Homo sapiens: one gene and its partner. The protein of the gene in region 1 purifies or fractionates together with the protein of each later gene. This does not show direct contact. Each region holds a gene or a part of one and is shown in the gene's direction. Other genes may lie near its edges.

What was found.
Region 2: the proteins of ELOVL6 (region 1) and SNRNP48 purify together in Homo sapiens (affinity purification with mass spectrometry; one large-scale study listed by BioGRID and IntAct). This does not show direct contact.

The regions. Positions count from the first base shown.
Region 1 is NC_000004.12:110,191,961-110,195,783, reverse strand, and holds part of ELOVL6 (very long chain fatty acid elongase 6), read left to right. Parts: intron 1-3,823. UniProt on the Homo sapiens protein: Catalyzes the first and rate-limiting reaction of the four reactions that constitute the long-chain fatty acids elongation cycle.
Region 2 is NC_000006.12:7,603,500-7,607,322, forward strand, and holds part of SNRNP48 (U11/U12 small nuclear ribonucleoprotein 48 kDa protein), read left to right. Parts: intron 1-1,898; coding exon 1,899-1,987; intron 1,988-2,531; coding exon 2,532-2,696; intron 2,697-3,823. UniProt on the Homo sapiens protein: Likely involved in U12-type 5' splice site recognition.

The DNA.
Region 1 (3,823 bases):
GAGTTGAAATGGTGATTGGTGCCCATTTTATTGCCAGCACTACTCGTTAATACCCGAAGGTTAACAGGCTAGAACTTGCATACCGTGGCAGAGTCACATCTTGGGATTTTTCCCTTCCTGGCTTCTGCTCTCTGTTGATGTTATGTTCTTAGATTGCTTATTGCAGTCAAAGAACCCTGCTGGCTGTTACCCCTCCCTTGCAACTCTTCCTGACCCTAATTGTCTTACTTTCATGTTTTTTTTTAAATGCCAGATTTTGTGCATTTCTCCCAATATCCCAGGGTGCCCAATTTTATCTCTCCTCCCTCCCCAAAAACTGTACAGCCAAAAAGACTTTAAACACTTTTTAAAATTTAATTTTATTAGCCGGGTGTGGTGGCTCCTGCCTGTAATCCCAGCACTTTGGGAGGCTGAGGTGGGTGGATTACCTGACGACAGGAGTTCGAGACCAGCCAGGCCAATATGGTGAAACCCCATCTCTACTAAAAATACAAAAAAATTAGCCGAGCGTGGTGGCGGGTGCCTGTAATCCCAGCTACTCGGGAGGTTGAGGCAGGAGAATTGCTTGAACCCGGGAGGTTCAAATTAAAGCTTTTAGTTTTTATTTTTAATAGAATCCAGCTAATGCAGGACAAAAAGTCTTGAACCAGATTTTCTTTTCACTCCCTTTTTAATAGGAGAAGGGAACTCCATAACCAAGGCTTAGACCCTCTTGAGGAGAGAGGAACTTGAGGAAACCATAAAATCTTACCTTTTTCAGACTCATTAACTTAAAATGGTTTGAAATAGCTTCTGGAGGAAAAACATGATATAGTGAAGCTTCTACTCTGTCTTTTGGGAATTTATGGTTGTCCTTATAAATCTCTTCTTAGTAACAGGCAAAACTTGTTAATTTAGAGAATTAAAACATCCTCTCTCAAAAGTGAACTACATTGGCTTTTGAAGAACTGTGAGAATGGCCAGGAGTAGTATTTTGCCAGTATGCTGCCTTTGCTAACTAGCATCATTTAAGAGGACCTAAAATAAGAATACTTTATTAAACATACGCTATAATCCATACTTACTAACCATAGCGCAAATTAATGTTAACATACCCTATAATCCATACTTACTAACCATAGCACGTGTTAATGGAATGGGGCCCGACTTTTGGAGTAGCATTTGTATAAACCCTAAAGGGTTCAACTGAGGCTAGTTTTCAAGTTTATTGCTGCTTTAATGAATCATTAACCTCATACTCATTGGCCTAGCCATGAAAGTAAATACTGCAGACTTTTTTTACTTTGCTAGCAAAAAGTTTCATATATAATAGGTTAGAATAGCAATTGAAATGCAAAGTAATAAGTGTATTCCCTTGTAGAATCATCCTGGGCCTCATCTTGAAACTACATGTCCAGTGAAAAATATCCTGTCTGGTTATATTATCTGGTCAATGAGAGTTTATTACATGAGGTAGAGAAAAATGTCTGCTCATAGGTCCAAATAGGAGTTTTGAATTCTAATTTTCACTGAAAAGTCCTTGCAATTTTACAACATTGAAAATAGAGACATTTTGCTCTTTTATGAGATGTCTGGCCTTTACCTGTTTTTCTCACTAAGAGCTGACTTAAGTTGGAAGTGCTGCTAGCCAGGGAGCAAAATCACCTGGTGATTGCTAAGGCGACATATAATTCATTGAGTGAGAAGGGAAGCTGGGCTCTCTCTGCCTTCTCTTTCAGCAGCCTGCCAGGTTTGTGCTAACAGCAGTGGATGCTAGTTGCTCCAGTTGTAATTGTCTAGCCAATGATGATTATCTTCTGATGTCGGCTGACACGGTGCCCACCAATAGGAAAGCAGGAGGCCTGTGCTGACTGCTGTAACATTATGTATGTGAGGTGACGTCTTCAAAGGGCTTGCCTAGAACTTCATGAAACCCTCCCCCTCTCCTGGCATTCTCCACACATCCAGCCTTTCAAAGCTTTATATATTTTTCTGACTTTTCTCCCCACTCACTCCCTTGGTGGTGTAAAAGGGTTTACTTGTTTTAACATTTTGTATTCTGTATTATAGAGTCTATAAGATAGTATAGGAATTTTAAGAATTAAATGCTGTTCAGCTGAGGAAGCCTTTTTATTCACAAATTTGTTTTTACCAAAGGTAAAAATGGAGTGAAACATTTTATTTTATTTTGTTTTATTTTTGAGACAGGGTCTCACTCTGTTGCCCAGGCTGGAGTGCAGTGGCACAATCTTGGCTCACTGCAACCTCTGCCTCCGGGTTCCAGTGATTCTTATGTCTCAACCTCCCAAGCAGCTGGGATTACAGGTGCCTGCCATGACACCAAGCTAATTTTTGTATTTTTAGTAGAGATGGGAATTCACCGTGTTGGTCAGGTTGGTCTTGAACTCCTGACCTCAAGTAATCCGCCCACCTCGGCCTCCGAAAGTGCTGAGATAACAGGCTTGAGCCACTGCAACCGGCCGTGAAACATTTTAAAAGGAGTTGTACATCTATATCTTTTTTGTAGGTGAAGTTTGGAAAGTAACACGATGTACAATTTCATGATTAAAGAACATAAAAAGCACTAAAAACCTGTGTTAGCATTTAACTCAAATATAGCAGCATAAAAAATATAGCAGCATAATGTTAATGAAACTGTTCAAATGCAGACATAGTATTTGGCTGTTGTTTTTCATTTAGTGAGGATTGCTTTGAATTGCTTCCTGAAGTCTTCCTTGCAACCTTCTACATTCATTTGTAAGAAAAATGGCTGGAAAACAGTGCATCTGTGACTATGGAACAGAGTAGGCCAGAGTTTCATTTCATCATTAACATTGCAGCAACAAATTTGGTCAGCTCTGTAGGAATATAGTGTGTCTATATTGTACTCATGTCACTTGCTGTTTATTTTGAGGTATCACAGTTCATATTGATTTAGGATTAAAACTTGTGTGAGGATCATAACATGACATTCAATAATTTTTAGAAAGCACTGGGATGTAGGCATATGTACTAGGTTAAGAGTGAGAAGAATGAGAAAATACATAGAGAAAAAACGTGTAATCTGTGTGGGGTCCTAGAAAATAATGTAAAGTTGTGCTGGAGCTTTGATATGAACTTTCATGTATCTTTTAATAAATTATAAATATTCATGCAATTCTTGTTTAGGATTCCAAAGGATGAAAGCCAGCTTAATGCAAAATATTTTATGATTATATTATCCATCTGTGTATTTGTACTAGTTATAATTAGTGCTTAAAATTTTTTCATGAAGTCTTTTTCACATTGGAAGTAAAATTTTGTGATCTTCAGAGGATTGCCTGTTGCTTTTTTGTTTGAGGGTGATTCTAAATGTGTCAAAGTGTATAACATTGGAACTTAATGAAACTTTTCAAATGCAGACATAGTATTTCACTGTTGTTTTTCCTTTAGTGAGGATTGCTTTAAATTTCTTCCTGAAATCTTCCTCGTAACCTTCTGCGTGCATTTGTAAGAAAAATGGCTGGAAACTTCAAAGTCAACTTATTCCATATCTAAGAGTTGCCTTATATACTTCCTTGAAAGAAGAATCTTTCTTTTTCTTTTTTTTCTTTCTTTCTTTTTTTTTTTTTTCTTGGATGGAGTTTTGCCCTTGTTGCCCAGGCTGGAGTGCAATTGTTCCATCTCGGCTTACTGCAACCTCTGCCTCCTGGGTTCAAGTGATTCTCCTACCTCAACCTCCTGAGTAGCTGGGTTTACAGGCATGCGCCACTACACCCGGCTGATTTTTTTGTATTTAGTAGAAACGAGTTTTCACCATGTTAGTCAGGCTGGTCTCGAACTCCTGACTTCAGGTGATCCACCT
Region 2 (3,823 bases), on another chromosome or scaffold:
CTTTTGCTTTAGTCAAGCATGTCTCTTAAACTATATCTGATTGCATATAATTATTCTTACCTCCATGCCCTATTACCTGTTACTTTCTTACCTGAAATGCTCTGTTTTTGCCATTTTAAATCTTGTTGAGTTTAAGGGCCACCATTTCCATGAGGTGCTAGTTGACTAATCTATCACTAGTTTATTGTACTAATACTCTGTACCACACAGCTTAGCTCTAAATTTTATGCTGTTCTTTTTACAGTTAAAATCTGTGTTTTAGACTTAACTTAGCAAGTAGAGACCTGGGTCCCTGTCATACTACCTTGGTGATTCTCATAGTCCCTAAGATACTTGGCTCATCAGTTATTTCTTCTCTCGTCTCATAACCCTTGTAATCAAGCTTAAATGTTGCTGCTAGCATTCTTTACGGTTTTATAGTTGATATTTTATTGTGGAAATATTCAAACATATACTAAAGTGGATAGCATCGTCTAAGGAATGTACCCATCACCCAGCTTCAAAAATTGAAATAAAAGATTGGCAAGGGCTTCATAGAGAAAAGCATTTGAGGGAAAGGGAGAAGCAAGGAGGAATAAAGGAATGTCTGCTATTGACTCTTGCCTATGTGGTGGAGCCTGAGCTAGGTGGATTCTGTGCAAATAGCAGGCTTCAAGGCGCTTACATAGAGCTGCTGACAGGGAGGCTTGTAGGCCTGCCAGGGAAGTGCGAGAGCTGGAACTTGAGATAGGTGTGTGTGACTCATGTCACTCCGCTAGGTTGGACCTTGGCATATCTTAGGTTTTCCATGGGAGAATATAGTGGAGGAGGAGAAGTGGTGGATAAGGATTTTCCGGGTGGAAGAACTAGCATTCTGAAAAGCAGATAGAAGTATAGGAGTTTTTCAGAGACTCATTAGTAACCCAGGGTGGCTAGAGCTTAGGGCTTCTCTGTTGAGAGATGAGGCTAAGTTCTATCTTATGTAGGAAAATCCTGGAGGGCTCTGAAGGCTTCATTAAGGAGTTTGGATATTGTTCGATTTTACTTTGAGAGCCATTGAAAGTTTCTTTAAGGTGGGGAGAAATGCAGTCAGGCCTGAATGAATAGTGTTTCTGAGATTGCCCCGTGTCCCCTATACCTTTTTTCTGAAAACATTTTCTATTTAATCATGAGGGAAGTGTAAACTCCTATTTTAGTTTTGTCTTTGCCTCTGCAGTGACTAACCCTGTGCTTGGTGGCATGGGTAAATAGGAAAGGAAAAACTTTCAAGTGGTTTTTACCTATTTGAAAGTTTCTTTATAGAGTCATTCAGAAAGTATCTGTGAAGTGACTGTATGTTTCATATTTTGTCTTATTAAGTCATATGATTAAGTCAAGATGACTTAATTATAAGGTTTTAAAAAAATCATTTGTAAATAAGCTCTAATAGAGAGATAAATTGCAAAACTAAAAATAGTACCAAGAACTCCCATATTGTCTTTACCCAGATCACCCATTGTTAGCATTTTGCCACATAGCTTCTCATTGGCACTCTCTCTCTCTCTCTCTGCACATTTTTCACTCTCTCGATCTCGATCTGTACATATTTTTTTCCCCTGAATTCTTTAAGGGTTAAATTACATACCTCATAACCCTTTATCCCCAGTATGTATTTCCTAAGAACAGAGATATTTTCTCACATAAAGGTAGTACAGTTATAGCAACTTCAAATTTAATATTGCTGTAAAACTTTTATCTACTATTCATATTCCAGTTTGACCATTGCCTTTTCTGTGTTCTCTAAACTGCACAAGTCCCACAGTCAATTATGTCATAGCACTTAGTAAATATTTGATTGTTAGCACTGATTTTTCTAGCGTTACAGTCTTAATTTTTTGAGCAGTTTTCTTACCTGAAGTTCGGTGCTTACCTCTCCCAAGGTGATTCGAGATGTGATAAATGTGCACATGGAAGAACTCAGCAATCATTGGCAAGAAGAGCAAGAGAAGGCAGAGGATGATGCCGAAAAGTACGTCATTATCTTTATTGGTGAAAATACTCTCTCTTTGATAACAGATAACAATTAACTTATAATTGTTAAATTTTAGCATTTCCAAAACCCTTGATAGCACACAGTAAACTCGTGAAAATGCTTTTTGTTTTTCGTTGTCAGTGCCCAGGGTTATTGTACCAGAGTTGTTCTGACATTACCCTTTGACAGTTTTCAGGGGATAGCCATATTAGTGAAATATTCAAATAGCAAAACATACTAACATTTATGCCTAGTATTCCATTATGGGAACACCAAGCATGTGGGAGTTATTTATGTCCTACTGCTCAAGGTCATCGCCAAGGTCTCATTGCAAAAATTAAAAAAATTGCAACCTCAGGCATAAATGGGTTAAGAGCTGTGTTTATTTGTCCTTTTATATGGGTTATAAGATTGTGCATATTTAGACCATATCTACCATTGGTTTGATATAGAATATTACACTTTAGACTGGTGTGTCTGTGTACGTATACTGGAGACCAGTGGTAACACAAACTGATTAACATTCTTTTCTGTGTTTTAGGAATGAAGAAAGGCGATCAGCTTCAGTAGATTCACGGCAGTCTGGTGGAAGCTATTTGGATGCTGAGTGTTCACGACATAGAAGGGATAGGAGTAGAAGCCCACATAAAAGAAAAAGAAACAAAGATAAGGATAAAAACTGTGAGTCGAGAAGAAGGAAAGAGAGGTGGGTCTAACCCTGCATCATCCAACGTTGAATTCTGTACTTTTTAAAAATAGAACAGGTTCTTCTGTTGTAGACCATGCTGAGAAAATAGATTTTAAGAATAAGCTAAAGTAAGGAGAGTAAACAATTGACGATGATTCTTAACATTCATTATAGTTCAGTTCAAATAACCACCACTCTAGTGACATAGATCTCTACATGCGTGATTGGATGTTTTTTTCCCTTTTTTATCTCTTACTTGCTTGCTTCCTAAACAGGACATATGAAAGTATTGTCTAGGCAGGACATTAACTGTTAAACACGGTTTTCCCAGATCCCTTTCTTCTGCTCATTCCTTCCTTCCTCTTTCTCTTATTCTTTCTTTCTTTTTCCTGCTAATTCCTCAAATAAGGGTATGTAGGGTCAGAGAGAACATCTAAATTTTGACAGTCAATTTTGCCTTTGTTAGTAAAATTTTGATAGCTTGAGAGATGTGAATTAATACCGAATTAGTAAATGTAAATCATTTGAGGTCTATTTCTGTAGTCCAGCTGCTTACAAGGCATGTACCTGGATCTCAAGTTCATCAGGTCTAGAACTAAACTTACCTTTTTCTCAATCTGCTCCTCTTTCCCCAGCATTACTGTCCTGGTTAAAGAGATGACTCTCATCTATTAACCTAAGCCAGAAATCAAGGAGTCATTTTAGATACTTCCTTCCACTCCTTATCATCTGGTCAGTTCCTAATGAAATGATGGTCATTTTCCTAATTTTTCTACTTGTCTCTAAATTTACTGCATATGATTCCATTCCCTTGTATACTGCTAGAGTGAATAGTCACCTCATAGAACTCTTCCGTGGCGGTCTGGCATGGTGGCTCATGCCTATAATCCCTACACTGTGGGAGGCTGAGGCAGGTGATCACTTGAGCTCAGGAGCTCAAGGCCAGCCCGGGCAACCTGGCAAAACCTCGTCTCTACAAAGAATACAAAGATTAGCCGGGTGTGGTGGTGCATACCTGTGGTCCTAGCCACTTGTGGGGCTGAAGCAGGAAGATTGCTTGAGCCTGAGAGGTTGAGGCTGCAGTGAGCCGTGTTCTCACCCCTGCACTCCAGCCTGGGCAACAAAGTGAGACCCTGTCTCAAAAA